Regions from separate parts of the Homo sapiens genome. Here region 2 is linked to region 1. The links come from fine-mapping of genetic effects on gene expression. Tissue or cell type: monocytes after LPS. Region 1 holds a variant in brackets; the other region holds the start of a gene. All regions are shown on one strand. Distances are from middle to middle.

The links. PIP is the estimated chance that this variant, and not a neighbour inherited with it, causes the effect.
Region 2: it holds the start of FZD6, and the variant in region 1 is fine-mapped to the expression of FZD6 in monocytes after LPS (Fairfax 2014, PIP 0.90).

Annotation. Positions count from the first base shown.
Region 1 is chr8:103,122,842-103,130,946 of GRCh38, forward strand. The region is part of intron 1 of LINC01181 (long intergenic non-protein coding RNA 1181); the gene reads left to right. Among named protein-coding and RNA genes, the nearest start is that of LINC01181, 5.9 kb to the left of the region's middle. The variant C/G (reference allele first, on the strand shown) is at 3,823.
Region 2 is chr8:103,295,065-103,303,169 of GRCh38, forward strand. It overlaps FZD6 (frizzled class receptor 6), which reads left to right and starts at 3,834. Exons shown (of 7, transcript NM_003506.4): 1 at 3,834-3,931; 2 at 4,892-5,220. The coding sequence starts at 5,044. LOC105369147 (a long non-coding RNA gene) reads right to left here and starts at 3,754. Exons shown (of 2, transcript NR_148216.1): 1 at 3,285-3,754. RefSeq lists enhancers at 3,410-3,910, 3,911-4,411, 4,265-4,314 and silencers at 3,515-3,564, 3,575-3,744, 3,865-4,114, 3,977-4,271.

The sequences.
Region 1 (8,105 bases):
CTCTTCATTTACACAGGGCGTACACCAAGTAACCAATGGAAACCTCTAGAGGGTATTTAAACCCCAGAAAATTCTGTAACAGGGCTCTTGAGCCCCTATGCTCGGGGCCACTCCCACCTCATTTTCAATAAATCTCTGCTTTTGTTGCTTCATTCTTTCCTTCCTTTGTTTGTAACTTTGTCCAGTTCTTTGTTCAAGACCCCAAGAACCTGGACACCCTCCACTGGTAGCAAGGGGGCCATGTGATAGAGATCCTGCCCCTCTCCTGTATGGACATTTGGACTCAGCAAGCGAGGCCAGAGTCACAGAGACCCTCTTAAAATGACCTTGCTTTTAGATGCAGGCTGATTAGTTGCCAAAGCCCAGCAACTGGCAGGATGGGAGACATGGTGACAGTGTCTGGGTGGCTCATGGAGCCCCTCACAGCCATGGGTGGTGGCAGGAAATGGGCAGAGGTGCCTGGTGCCCAGGGTGGGGCTACTCTCCACCTGCCTTTGTCAGGCTGCTTCCCAGTTTCTTTTTTTTGGTCTGTGTTCTTGTGTGTCTCACAATGCACTCCATTTGTTAAAGTAACTTGAGAACGTGGCCATGTCTTGTGGCTTAGAGGAGGCTAATTGTCACGGGAGACTCTCACGATCTCTCAGGAGGGAGTGGAGTTTTCTCAGAATAAAGAGCATCAGCTACAGTGAAGAATGGAAATGGGGCTAATGTCTATTGACTGGGGACTGGTGAGCAAGATCATGGCACCTCCGCACACGATGAAATCCTGCAGCTGGAAAACAGAACAAGGAAGCTCTTTGTGTACTGATAAGGAGTGATCTGCAAGATATTTTCCTAGGTGAAAAATGTGAGCTTCAGAATGGTGTAGCAAAATGAAACTCAGAAAATATCTCTAGAATATTACACCTCATCTAATGACGCTGGTTGCCTATGAGGAGGGAAGCTGGGGGCCTGGGGGCAGTGATAGGAGAAGAAATTTTCACTAAGCATTGTGTAATAATTTTCCTAAATCTTGAATCATGAAATTCAGTCACCTCTTTAAACAATCAAATCAGAAAAACATCTATTAAGAACATGACCTATAAAGTTGAGCAAGTCCTATGCTTGGGCTTGCCCCCACAATTTATTGCTGGGTAAAGTTGAGCAAGTTACTCAACCTCTCTGAACTCATTTTGCTCATCTGTAACATAATCACAGGCTTGCCTCCACAATTTATTGCTGGGTAAAGTTGAGCAAGTTACTCAACCTCTCTGAAGTCATTTTGCTCATCTGTAACATAATCACAGGAATAATACCTGCCTGATAGGGCTGATTGGTTATTGTTGTTGTTTTGTTTTCTTTCTTTCTTTTTTTCATTTTTTTTTTTTTTTTGAGACGGAGTCTCACTCTGTTGCCCAGGCTGGAGTGCAGTGGCACAATCTTGGCTCACTGCAGACTCCGCCTCTCGGGTTCAAGCGATTCTGTTGCCTCAGCCTCCAGAGTAGCTGGGACTACAGGCGTGTGCCACCGCGCCCAGCTGATTTTTGTATTTTTTAGTAGAGACGGGGTTTCACCGTGTTGGCCAGGCTGGTCTTGAACTCCAGACCTCAAGTAATCCGCCTGCCTCAGCCTCCCAAAGTGCTCAGATTACAGCTGTGTGCCACCACACTTGGCTGTTGTTACTGGTTTTCACACAAGGCATTTTCCATTTCCCATTTTCCTCTTAGCCTAATAGCATGCTCCTTAAGCTACAAAACTGCAAAGCAGTGCTATCCTTTGTTTGCAGTTTTCCTTTTTCTGTTGGGTGCTCTCCATAAGATAAGGGCCATTGAGGTTGGGCCAGGTAAATTAAAACCAGCCTCTACTGTACTCAAAATTATCTCTTCTATTTGGAATGGGCTCATTGTCTTTGGACCCAGCCCATGCCTGACGCTCTCTTTCTTTAAAAAGAGTTCTTTTCCTAGCCCCTTCTTGGTCCCCACTGCAAAGTTTTCTATGGATTACATAAGCACTTCTAGATTCCCGGTGAACACAGTTTACCTTAAGCTATTAATTAAAACATTCGTTATTATTACGGTGCCCATTTCCCATTATCTTCAATCACAGTATTTTGTGCATTGTAGTCACTGAAGTGTGACCAACATTTCATTCCCGCATAGTGATGCCTCCAGGGCTCGTGGACTGGACAGTCTAGGGTCGTGCTCTGCTCTGCAGGAGACAGGGAGCACCCAAGCCAAGTTGGTTCCTACCTTCCCGGCACTAGGGGGTGCTGTCTTGTTTAGCTATTTTCTTAGTTTTATTTTTGCCTTTGAATAGATGTGCCTGCTGCACTTACATCTCCCTGCAAGGATAGCAAAAGCTATAGGAAGATGATTGTGGAAAGGAAAATAGGGTCTGTGCAACGAGCTGTCTGGCTTCCTCTCTGTGGGGAATGAGCATTAAGACATTCCCAGGCTCAGTAGGTCTGGAATGGGACCGAGATATGTGCATTCTAGTAACTATTCAGGTGATATTCAAAGCCACAGATGGGTCTTTTATTTCATTCGTGATTTGCTTTTCCCATCTTTTCTTTAAAATGTGTCTGCCGACTCTCACTCATGGTGGTATTGCCCCTCCTGGGCCTGCTGATCTCTGACTGTGTATTTATTAGATCTTCATCTGTGGGAGTCTTCTCGGCTTAGGTTGGGGGTGCTCTCTTTAGGGAAGATTTGCATCTGCTTCTTCTGAGAGCCATGGGTCACTGCCAGCTTGGAACCATTTAGAGCTCCTCGTGAGTTCTGGTTTAATGAAGGTCTTAGGTTTGGCCTCCCCTCCTCATTGCTGGCCCAAGAGTGAGGATCTGGATCATTTGCTCTTAGGGTAGTTCTGCTCCTCCCTGCTTGCTCACTGCTTCCAGCTCTAATTTCTACTTATAGTTTGCTCCATTTCATGTGGAGGAGTCCCTTGGCAACATCCTCTATCTCCTACAAGCCCATCTCATCTATGTTTTATCTAGGATGTAATTGTTTTGCAGAAGGAGAGCTGTATTAGTCCGTTCTCATGCTACTAATAAGGACATACCTGAGACTGGGTAATGTATAAAGGAGAGAAGTGTAATTGACTCATAGCTCCACAGGGCTGAGGAAGCCTCAGGAAACTTATAATCCTGGTGGAAGGGGAAACAAGCACATCCTTCTTCACATGGCGGCAGCAAGGAGAAGTGCCGAGCAAAAGGGGGAAAAGTTCCTTATAAAACCATCAGATCTTGTGAGAACTCACTCACTGTCAGGAGAACAGCATGAGGGTAACCGCCTCCATGATTCAATTACCTCCCACCGGGTCTCATATGTGGGGATTATGGGATTACAATTCAAGATGAGATTTAGGTGGGGACACAGCCAAACCATATCAAGGGCCTATGAGAATATTTGGTCTGAGATGTTATCAGTGGAAGTCTTTTTTTTTTTAATGCAGATGTTCTTATTTCTATGAGACAAAATGGTAATACATCTATTGTGAGGGAATTATTCATCAAACATATGCAGTTTTATCATTCTGCACTGTAGGAAGGTTGAAGGAACACGTGTCTGGGTGTAGTTTGTGTGTTACTTCTCACAGAATTACTGGTGTATTATATTATGTTCTATTCTGGGTGTCTTGAGGCCTGATAAGACAAGCATGGCCATGAGAAATTCTATAATTCCACTCGTGTCTCCACCTACCTTTTTCTTCCCTTTTGTCCAGTAAAGGAGGTGTCTCTGTTGCATCAAAGCCCACCCCACACAGTGGGTTCTAGATCCCGTCCCCTTCATCTTCTCAAGGACCCTGCTCCATTGGAATCCTCCCTCTGCTGCACCATCAACT[C/G]CCTCGCAGGGAGACAGTTCCCATCCCACATTTTCCCATCTTTAAAAAACCCACCCTTGGCCAGGTTTGGTGGTTCACACCTGTAATCCCAAGACTTTGGGAGGCTGAGACAGGAGGATCACTTGAGCCCAGGAGTTCAAGACCAACCTGGGCAACATGGTGAAACCCCATCTTTACAAAAAATAAAAAATTAGCTGGGCATGGTGGCACCCAGAGAGCCAGGGGTCACTGCCAGCTTGGAACCATTTAGAGCTCCTAATGAGTTCTGGTTTAATGAAGGTCTTAGTTTCGGCCTCTCCCCCTCGCTGCTGGCCCAAGAGTGAGGATCTCGATCGTGGCACATCTACCATAATTTACTCTTAGGGTAGTTCTGCTCCTCTCTGCTTGCTTACTGCTTCCAGGTGCTTGGGAGGCTGAGGTGGGAGGATCACTTCAGCCCAGGTGGTCAAAGCTATAGTGAGCCATGATCATACTACTGCACTCCAGCCTGGCTGACAGAGCAAGACCCTGTCTTAAAACAAAACAAAACAAAACAAAACAAAACAAAACAAAACCCACCCTTGACCCCACCTACCCTAATTCACTTTTCTATTCCTCTTAGGAACCAGATCTCTCAAAATATATGTCTATAGCTGCCACTTTCCCTTTTTCACTCTCCATTTGCCTTTGCTTTTACTTGGTTTCTATTTTTAGCAAGGTTATTTGCACATATTTTAAAGACTCAAGAGTTCTATAAGACTTGTTATGAAAACCAACAGTCCTCTGCTTTCCCCATCAGAGACAACTACTTACAACTCTTGTAGCTGCTTTTTCTTTTTGGCATTTAGCTCTGTGTTTCTGAATAAAATGCTAGTATTGGGCTACTTAATGATCCCTCAATTGTGAGCAGTAGCTATTGACTGCCCCTACAGAGGAGGAGGATTTAGCTCTCATTCTTTCCCCTTCCCACAGCATGCACATACATTCTTTCCACCTCCTACCATTCCTGCATGGTTACATCTTAACTTTCCTTGGTTCAGTAATCCATGTTTACTTTATTTTGATTATATAGTGATATCGAGAGCAGAGTCATCTAGTAAGCTTAGACTACTTTTTCTTCCTTACACAACTTTTAATTTTCCTTGGGAATAATTTTTTATTTGCTTAGTTTTCTACTTATTACCAGTCCAACTTCAAACTGCCATAATTTATCTTTCTGCTCAAAACGTCTAGATTTATGCTATTAGTTTTGTCCTCTTGAAGAATCCCTTCCAAAACCTCTGACTTTCTCCAATTTGGATTGTCTCCAAACCACCCTCAAGACCTGGTGTAGCACTGTTTTGTTTTGTTGTGTTTTCTTTTTCTTTTAACTTTTATTTTAGGTTCAGGGGTACATGTGCAGATTTGTTATATGGGTAAACTTGTGTCATGGAAGTCTGGTGTACAGATTATTTAGTCACCCAAATACTAAGCCTAGTACCTGATAGTTATTTTTTCTGCTCCTCTCCCTCCTCCCACTCTCCACCCTCAGGTAGACCCCCGTGTCTGTTGCTACCCTCTTTGTGTCCATGAATTCTTATCATTTAGCTCATACTTATAAGTGAGAACATATGATATTTGGTTTTCTGTTCCTGTGTTAGTTTGCAAAGGATAGTGGCCTCCAGCCCCATCCATGTTACTGCAAAGGACATGATCTCACTCTTTAAAATGGCTGCATTTAATGGTGTGTATGTACCACATTTTCTGTATTCGAGCTGCCGTTGATGGGCATTTAGGTTGATCCTATGTCTTTGTTATTATGAATAGAACAGTTTCTTTGGAGGTCTTTTCATCAGTCTAGGGATTCCCTTCATCTTTTGCCTGGGTCCTGGCTCCAAACTTTTCTTTCCTGTTTTGGTGGAATGCGTCTTCTAGTTACTTCTTCAGAAGTGCATGTGAGGTAAAATTTTTGAGACCTTGCAAATATAAATGCCTTTATTTTGACTTTTCACTTAATTGATGGCTAGGAATAAAAAATCTAGGCTTAAAATAATTTATTCAGAATTTTGAAGGCTACAGTCCACTGTATTCTAGCCTCTAGTCTTGTGATTGAGAATTCCAAAGACATTCTGATTCTTTTAAAACTTCTGTTTTTTATTTTTAGATACAGGGTCTTGCTATGCTACCCAGGTTGGATTTGAACTCCTAGGCTCAAGGGATCCTCCCACCGTAGCTTTCCAAGTAGCTGGGATGATAGACACTTGTCACCATTCCTATCTGGCATTCTGATTCTTAATCTTATGTATGTGACACATTTTTCTCTTGGAAGCTTGTAGGATCTTCTCTTTGTCCCCAGGTTTCTGAAAATTTATGATGGCATTCTTTGGGGTACGTTTAATCCGTTTTGACAGTTTAATTCTAGAAAAATTTCTTGAATTATTTCATTGGTGATTTCTTCCCTTCTGTGCTCTCTTATCTCTTTCTGGAATCCCTATTATTTGGGTGCTGGATCTCCTAGACTGATCCTCTAATTTTCTTTTCTATATTCTGTTTTTTTTTTTTTTTTTGGCCTTTTCATGCCTCAGTTTCGTTTTTCTAGCTCTCTACTAAGTTTTTCACTTCTTCCATCATATATTTAATTACCAAGGGCTTTTTGTGGTTGTTGATTGTTCTCTAAAGGTTCTATTTTATTTGTATTCTTTTCTTTTTTTAGGGTTGTAACATCTCCTCTGATCTCTCTGAGGACATTAAATACAGTTTTCTTGACGTTTTCTTCCTCTTATATAGTTCCCATTTTTTTCCAAGTAGCTCTTTTGCATTAGAGTCTTTCTTCAGATATCTTTTAATACCTGCTGTCTGCTTATCCTTGACTGTGGAAACCAAAAAAGCTGATTTGAAGCTTTGTTCACCTGAGTGGAACTTACCCACTATGAGCTTCACAGTAGGGCAATCTGGCTTGACTATTTCCTTGGGCAGCCCTGATGTATCGTTAGGTGTTTTCTCTGGATTGGTTGGTTTTCCAAGAGAATCTTTCCTACGTGTGCTCTGGCAGGTGAGGAGGGAAAGAAGCCTGAAAGTCTCAGCACAGGTAAGCATACAGTCTCTTAATTGTCCTATTTGATATTCCAGTCAAGAGACTCATTGTTTGATCTTTTCCAGAGAATGAATCCAGTCTTCTGCCAGGATGGGGAAGGGCATCTATTAAGAGTATGGTAGGGGTCTGCAAATATAATTCCTTTTTAAATTGCTTTCAACTAATTCTCCTTATTTTAATGCCAATTCCCACCCACTTGCCCTACCTCTATTTTTAAAGTTTCCGGTGCCACTAACTCCTGAGACTTTGAAAAATTTGAGGTGCAAATGGTGTTGGTTTTAAGTTTCCTCACTACTGACATAGGATTCCACCTTCTTCAGCCCACTAAATTAGCTAAAACTTCTCCAAATGGTTTCCAGCTTTCAAAATACTGTGGCATTTTTGTCCTCTCCCCGTCTTACCATCCTCATGGGTTTATGTTAAAGATAATCACTTTAGTGTTTGTGTGTGTGCGTGTTTGGCTTGAGAAACAAGTAAAATTACATGCATGTGTTCCCATCTACTCATTAACCCACTTGCTCTGGCTGTGAAGCTACCCCTCCACTGCCACTTTTACCAAATTCACCAGTGATGTTCATGTTCCCAACAATGGGCTGTTTTTCATCCTTGACTCACACAAACACTCAGGAGCCTTAGTCAAAATTGAATGCTTTCTTCCTGACAGGTGCTCTTCTCTGGGCTTTTGTGACACTATACCTTTTTGGGTTTGTTTTCTGCTTCTTTGATTTCTCCTCCCCAGCTTACTTCTCAAGTTCATTTTCCTCTGCCAGTCCTCTAAAGAGGGGTTTCCTCAAAGCGTGATCTCAGGCCATCCTCTTTCTCTCTCTCTATGTCTACCACTTTCTCCTTAGGAAATTGCACACTTTGTTCATGGCTCCAACACTGATCTTCTTTTGATTCTTCATCTTCTCTATCTAATTGCCTACTTGTCTCCCAGGCATGTTTAACTCAAAATATCCAAAACAGACATCCTGATTTTTTTTTCTCCAAATTTATTCCTCATTAAGTCTTCCTCACCTACCTAGATATACAAGCAGAAACTGGAAAGTCATTCTTGTTTTCTCCCTCTTCCTTACTTCTGACATTTAAAATATCAGCAAGGCTTCTTACTCTACCTCCAGAATGTGTCTTGAATCTATCCATTTTCTCCATCATCACTGCCACTGCCTTAGTGTATGAATCACTATTATCTCTTGCCTTGACTATTGTAACAATCTCCAAACTGATTTCC
Region 2 (8,105 bases), 170 kb after region 1:
GGGTAGGAAGACCAGAACTGTAACTGATGAATTGCTAGAGGCTCAGGGTGGTCAAGACTAAGAATTTAAAACTCCAGGGGGTCAGCTGGGCACGGTGGCTCACGCCTGTAATCCCAGCACTTTGGGAGGCCTAGGCAGGGAGATCACGAGGTCAGGAGACAGAGACCATCCTGGCCAATACGGTGAAACCCCGTCTCTACTAAAAATACAAAAATTAGCTGGGCATGGTGGTGTGCACCTATAATCCCAGCTACTCGGGAGGGTGAGGTGGGAGAACCATTTGAACCCAGGAGGCGGAGGTTGCAGTGAGCCAAGATCACGCCACTGCACTCCAGCCTGGCAACAGAGTGAGACACACACACACACAAACACACACACACACACACACACACACACACACACAAAGGGGGAGGGGGCCTAGTCTTTGGAGGGCACACTCACACTTTTGTAAGTTTTACCTCCAGGAGTTCTTCCAGGTTCTCTCAGTGAAAATCAAAGAAAAATCACCTCCTACATCCAACAGGGAGAGGTGAAAAGAACCATTTTGAAATATGTCAAAATATTCTGTTCTTTTTAACAAGGCCTGCCCTCAAGAGAAACTACCAGAGCCTAACCTATTACAGTTTTAGCAGAGCCTAACCAAGCTGATAGATGGGAAATATCCAACCCCAGCCCCCTCTAGACATCCTGTCCCACCCAAGAAGGGGGATAAAAACTAAGAAGCACTTGTGAAGTTTCCAGCCTAGGGACACAAGCTCACTAAGACTGAAATCTAATCATAGGTCTATAGAATGTTTCCCCTCCTCCCACATCTTAACACCGCATCACTGAAGCCCATTTACTCCAGTGCCTTTCACCCAGTGCATCATGTCCAGCTTTCAACTAAAAATTACAAGGCACACTACAGAGCAAAAAACACAGTTTGAAGAGGCAAAGCAATCATCAGAACTAGACTCACATACGGCAGAGATGTTGGAATTATCAGACCAGGAACTTCAAATAACTGTGATTAATATACTAAGGGTTGTAAAGGTAAACGTAGACAACTTGAAAGAACAGACGGTTAATGTAAGCAGAAATGAAAATTTTAAGGAAGAATAAGAATTGCTAGAGATATAAAATTCTATAACAGAAATGAAGCATGCCTTTGATGGATTCATTAATAGACTGGACATGGTTGAGAAAAGAATCTCTGAGTTTGAGGATATGTCAATGGAAACTTCCAAAATTGAAAAATAAAGAGAAAAAGGACTTAAAAAAAAGAAACAATATCCAAGAACTGTGAAACAACTACAAAAGTATAACATATGTGTAACAGGAATACCAGGAGAAGAATTAGAGAAAGGAACAGAAGAAATATTTGAAGCAATAGTGACTGAAAATTTCCCCAAATTAATGTCAGTCACCAACAATGTTAGACCAACTCTCTAAAATCTCTTCCAGAAGATAGAAGCAGGGGGAATACTTCCTAGCAGCATTGCCCTAATACCAAAACCAGACAAAAACATTACTAGCAAAGAAAACTATAAACCAATATATCTCTTGAACAAAGATGTAAAAATCCTCAACAAAATATTAGCTAGTAGAATCCAGCAATGCATAAAAAGAATTGTACAGCATAACCAAGATTTATCCCAGGTATGCAAGGCTGGTCCAATATTTGAAAATTCATTCATGTAATCTACCATACCAATAGACTAAAGAAGAAAAATCACATGACCACATCAATAGATGCAGAAAATGCATTTGACAAAATCCAGCACATTTTCATCATAAAAACTTTCAGCAAACTAGGGACAGAGGGGGAACTTTCTCACTTGCTAAAGAACATCTACAAAAACCCTAAGGTAACAATATACTTAATGATGAGGAGCTTACCTATAGAGGAACAAAAATAAAGAATGACATCCAACTTCTCAGAAACCACGTAGACAAGAAGAGAGGTGGAGTAAAAGTGTTCAGAGAAAAAAACTACCAACCTATAATTCTGTACCTTGCAAAATTAGCCTTTAAAAGTAAAAGTCTGTTTCTTCTACTTTTGGTCACCACTGTCCCCTAGCATCAGCCCAGAGGAACAATGCAAAGAGAAAGAGAAGGAAAATGAGGAAAACCGTCAGATAGTTCCATATTTACAGATGAAGAAACTAAAGAGGATCTGAATAATTTGCTCAAGTTCACACAGCAAGTAAATGCTGGAGCTAGGTTTTGAACCCAGGGATTTTGAACTCCAAAGTTTGTGTTCTTAATCTCGTACCATTGGGATGAAATTGTACAGTGAAAGACAAGCGATGATATAGATGATTGCCTAAGTATTCCAAATCCATCCTGACAAAAAAAAAATCATTCTAGTTCATCACTGCTCACTATATAATTAAATACAATGAAAAATAAAACAGGCTTTATTTACTTCTGTATAAATCAACTTACTACAATTTTTCCTTCCAAATAATGGAACAAGTATTCACTTGAATTTCAAAACTATCGTTTTCAAATGATACTTTAAAAGTATCGTTTTCAAACGATATTTTAAAAAGTATCGTTTTTAAATGATACTTTTAGTGATACTTCACTGCCTGGTAGTCACTAGAGCCTGATCACAAAAAGATCTCATTAAGTTCGTAGAAACTGGAGAGAAATAGTCTTCCAATGTAGAAAATTAGAAATTTAGGGGAAAATATTCTTCCTACATAGAAATTTATTCTGCAATACATCAACTATCCAGCTCTTAATGATGTTAATATTTCTTCATCACTACCTGTCTCCCAACATCAGTAAGCTTTTGATAAAACTGGGGAGGAATTCCCCACTCCAAATTCGTCTTTCCCCACAGATTCCAAAACTCTTACTCTGGTTGTTCAGGGTTGTCCTTCTAGGTATGGAAATATGACATTCCTTTTCTGCAACAGGATGATTTATCTGACAAGAATAGCCTCCATCTACAAGTTACTTTGCATTTTTCAAAGTACTTCTACAAGTTCATTTGCTTCTCATACTATTCTGCCTGTTTCATAGGAGGGCCTTACAGGTTAGGTGTAAACACTTGTAACGAACTTGGCACTATTTGACTTACAGCCAGTGCTCAATTAACGTTAACCATCATTACAACTATTGTCATTCCTATATTGTGAGGAAACTATGCCCCTTAAAGATTAGGGTAATTTATCTAATATCTATGACAGAGTTGGTACCCCAAACTAGGTTGATTTCTACAGCAGTTCAACTTCCTATTAGGGTTTGTATCAATAAAACTGTGGGACCCGCCAGGGCTGGAATCCCACTGCTACCTGAGCATCCAGTTGGTGACCAGGCTCCCCGAATTAATAAAAGTATTTGTTGTTGTTTTTATAGCAGTTGTCCAGGAAGTATCTCCTTTCGAACTCAAGTCACTTGGGCAATTGGCTTTACAAAGCAAATTGGCTCCGTTTAAGGATTCTTGACTCCTGAAATCCGCAAGGAAGTGGGTTCTTTTAGAGCCAGCGCCAAGAGCTTCAAAAAATCCTTCTAAGGTGAACCCCTCCGGACCCGGATAGCGAGATGGGGCTCAGCCTTGCGCCTCGGGGGTCGTAACAGACGGCAAGGTGGAGGTGGCTTCCCGGCCCCGCAGCCGGACCTCGGCACCCCGAGCCCGTTCACCGGGGCCGGGTCCTGGCGGGCCGCGGAGTGAGGCCGGGCGGCGCAGCGCAGGCGGTGCCCGGGCGCAGGGCCAGTCCCGCCGCCGCCGCCGCCGCCGCCGCCGCCGCCGCCGCGAGCCCGGACCTGCCCGCCCGACCTGGCGGCGCAGTCTCGCGGGATCGCTCAGCTCTCGCTCCCCGTGCGGCTCTCGAGGCAGCTCCAGTCCCGGACGCAACCCCGGAGCCGTCTCAGGTCCCTGGGGGGAACGGTGGGTTAGACGGGGACGGGAAGGGACAGCGGCCTTCGACCGCCCCCCGAGGTGAGGCTTCCACGGCTGGGACTGGGCAGGGGCCGGGCGGGTGCCGGGGGAAGCGGGGAGGGCCTCGAGGGGCGAGGGGCCGCGGCTGGGATGAGGCGCGCCGGGAGCCGCAGGTGCTGGGGAGGCAACGGCGGGACGGCCCGCACCTGAGTTTCCTCGGAAGCGGGAACCGGCTCTGAAAGGCGATGCCGGGGCCCCGCGGCGCCGCGCAGGCCAGGAACGCTGCTGTCTGGCTCTAGGCCTGGGGCAGGTTCCCGGGTGTGGGGCGCTGGCGGACCGGGCATCAGTGTGTGTTGGGGCGCGGGTAATTCGTAATCCGGGGCCTACAGCCTTCCTCCCGCAAGGGGACTGCCTTCGCCCTTCCCCCGGGACAGATTTGCGCACTTTCCTTTCGACGGCAGCACTACACCCTCCTAGCCAGTGAAAACTGCAATGTTGCTCCTCCACTGGAGGAATCCTAAAAGTCTCCCTCTAGTTGGCCTTACGAAAATCGAGAAAACTACATACCCAGAAGACTGCCACAAAAACTGACTCTTCAGAGTCTTTTACAAGTTTAAGAACTCTTTGGGTCTTAAGGAATTTCCCAGGGCCTTAGTTTTCTTGTACTTAATAAGCTTTCCAACAGGGGCCCTTAGATTGTATGCTTATATTAATCCTTTATAATTTACTCCGAATCACCAGCTTTCCTTTTTTCCTCCATCTTACTCTTGCCATTCCCTCTTTTTAACCCTGTCTTCCATACAGCACCAACCTCCTAGCATCGGTTTCCTAGAGGTGCAGCTTCCTTAGCAAATGATATATTCCATGCTAAGGCAGGTGGAAGAGTATCTCGTTAGGACAGAATTTTCCGTTGTTTTTCCAGTGTTTGTTACCTGGGGTGAAAATCTTAACTCTGCACTTTGACTCCACATTTGAGTTTATGACAAATGTTGCTGATACACCCTCCTTTTGTTTTTACAGTAATTGACCCAGGACTCATTTTCAGGAAAGCCTGAAAATGAGTAAAATAGTGAAATGAGGAATTTGAACATTTTATCTTTGGATGGGGATCTTCTGAGGATGCAAAGAGTGATTCATCCAAGCCATGTGGTAAAATCAGGAATTTGAAGAAAATGGAAATGTTTACATTTTTGTTGACGTGTATTTTTCTACCCCTCCTAAGAGGGCACAGTCTCTTCACCTGTGAACCAATTACTGTTCCCAGATGTATGAAAATGGCCTACAACATGACGTTTTTCCCTAATCTGATGGGTCATTATGACCAGAGTATTGCCGCGGTGGAAATGGAGGTGAGTAGTGCTTCATACGTTTATTGAATAGTAGTTTATGCTCTGTTCTAGAATAAACTAGTAAAAATAAGTCTATTTTTAAACAGAGCCGATTTCTTCAAGTTGTGTACAAGTTGTGTTTTGAAAAGTCCTTTTGAAAATTAAATCCCTCTACTGACTTATGTTTTGTGTACCTTTGCGGCCCTGTTTAGTAGATTCGTTTGAATAGGGTTCATTTTATATAATGAAGTATGGTTACACATGATTTCTAAATACCTTGTACCTAGAAAATATTTTGCTTTCCTGAATCAAGTATGATAGTTCTTCTAGAAATGCGAATTCTGAATATTTTTCTACTTCACTGAACATGTAATATTTATTGCCTGGACTAAAACTGAAGAAATTTACAAGTTTTTATAAGTAGTTGTAATATTCACTTGGTACAGTTTTTCTGAAATAAATAAATTATCAGAATATTTTGTTGCTGTAGACTGTATTTTAAGGCTATCACAAAGTCACTAAAAAGTGACTTTGTTTTCTAAGCATAGCACTTATATGTTCTTTATAAGATACTTGTTAAAAGAAACCACTTGGGAGGAGTACAGTGACACTAAAGATTGCCTTAGGTGCCTTAGTTACCTGTCTCTGGTTTAGAGATATGCAAATTACTAGGGAGTGTGAGAAGAAAGCTACCTGTACAGACAGGAACCTGCCTTCCCATACAGATTTGTTAGGTTGTTAAGTCTCCTGAAGGAAACTAGACACATGCATTGTTTTTGTAGTTTTTCTCCAGAAAAACAGAATAGTAAAGGCTTTTTTCCCTCAGATTGTTGCTAAGAGAGGAAATCCCTACAAATTTAATATATATACTATTTTTAAAATTGATTAGATTTGATTTTGCAGCTTTGAAAGTTTTCTATTGTTGTTCAGTTGAATAGTTGTCTGACTGCCTCATTGTGGACTCATGTCTGGAATAGGAAAGCTTATAAATACTAAGTAGATGTTATTTAAAAGGATAGTACAGATTATATTATTGTTATCTTTCAGTGGTTTTTTTCAAACTGATGCTAGATGTCCTTTTGAACTGAACAAATGATGCACTGAGACTTTCATGAATCAGAACCATTTTGATGGTTCAATCTGATTCAATATGAAGTATATAGTGAGAACACTGTGAAGCAATAATTACATCATTCATTCACTTTTTTGCTGATGATAATATGTTTTGTAGTGTTCATGTTTTAATAGTGTTCCTAAATTTTTTAAATCTAATTTCCTTTGTATGTGGTAACTACATACATTTTAAGGTTTTTGTTTTTTCTTTTAGAGATGGGGTCTTACTATGTTGCCCAGGCTGGTCTCAAACTCCTAGGCTCAAGTGATCCGTCCTGCCTCAGCATCCCAAAGTGCTAGGATTACAGGCGCGAGCTACTGCACCTGGCTGACCATTTTAAGTTTGAATGCTAACAGTGACCTTATAAATTCATATCACCTAGACTCAAGAGAGATGCATCCCTGCTATTAAATGCCTGTAATTATAAGATGGTAGCAACTAGCTTTGTTCTGCACGTCTTTTTAAAACCAAATTTTTTTTACTTTCAAAAAAATTACTTTTTAATTTACCTAGCTTCTTTCCCAAGTAGTTTTGTGCCTGGATATTATCAAGAAGGCTTTTTGTTCTTACCTCTTTTATATGATTGCTAATACTACCAATCTCTTCATTATATAATTTTCCACTTATAACTAACCTTTCTCATAGCCTTTACTAATGAAGTTTTTTTTTTTGCTATAAATCATACTTCAGTAAATTTAAGGATACAAAAGAAGAGAGCCATCAAGCAGTCACAATACCAGCATTAACCTAAGTCTATAGAAGAAAGGAAAGAGAAATGAAAAGGCAAAAATAATGTCACCCTGGCTCAGACTTTTAATCCCTATATGTAATTTCTCAGTGTATACTATTGTGTTTTTCCTACTGCCCCTTTCCTATTTATCCATATACAGTAGTATTCTCTTTTAGTTCCTGTATTTGAATGTCCAAAATCCTATAAGTTGAGAGTTGTAAGTGACCCTAAAGATCATATAGAGCTTCTTAACCTTTTTTATGACATTAACCCCTTCTCAAGATAAGAGAAGTTTTAATATTTAAATAAATAAAATGTGTAGGATTACAAAGAAAACAAATTATATTGAAATATAGCTCAGGTAAAGAACCCCCGAACCCTTCATTATACAGATGAAGAAACTGAAACCCAGAAAAGCTGCGATTTGTCCCTTTGAGCACTCTAATCTGATAGTCTTCTCTGTCTACATGGACCATAATGTCATCTTTAACTGGTTTTTTTTTAGGCCCTTGTCCTGATTGGATAAACAAGATAATATTTCTTATGATTTAGAATGCAATGTGTAAATTTCAGACTTTGCTACTTATTTGCAAACTTCATTTAGATAAAAATTAAACTGGGTGATTGTTTTACCTCTGTTTAGCTCTGTCTCTCTTTTTCCTTCTTACAAGTGCCTTGAATACAAAGTCTTGTTAGACCAAAAATAAAATCTCTGTGGCGCACACCTGTAGTCCCATCTACTCTGGAGGCTGAGGTGGGAGGATCACTTAAGCCCAAGAGTTGGAGGCTGCAGTGAGCTATGATCGTTCCACTGCACTCCAGTCTGGGCAACAGAGTGAGACTTCAACTCAACAAAACAAAATGAAAACAACAAAAACAAAGCAAAAGTTAACTCCCTAATCTTCAGTCTCTCTAGTGGTGCCACAATGATTTTATTATAATTCAAATTTGTGCAGTCCACTTTAGGGTTAAAATCCTTCATCATTTTCCCTAAAGCTGGGGAAAAAAAGACCTGGTTCTAGAGCACTCCAGGCCCTTCATGTGGGACCCTGGCTGCTTGTC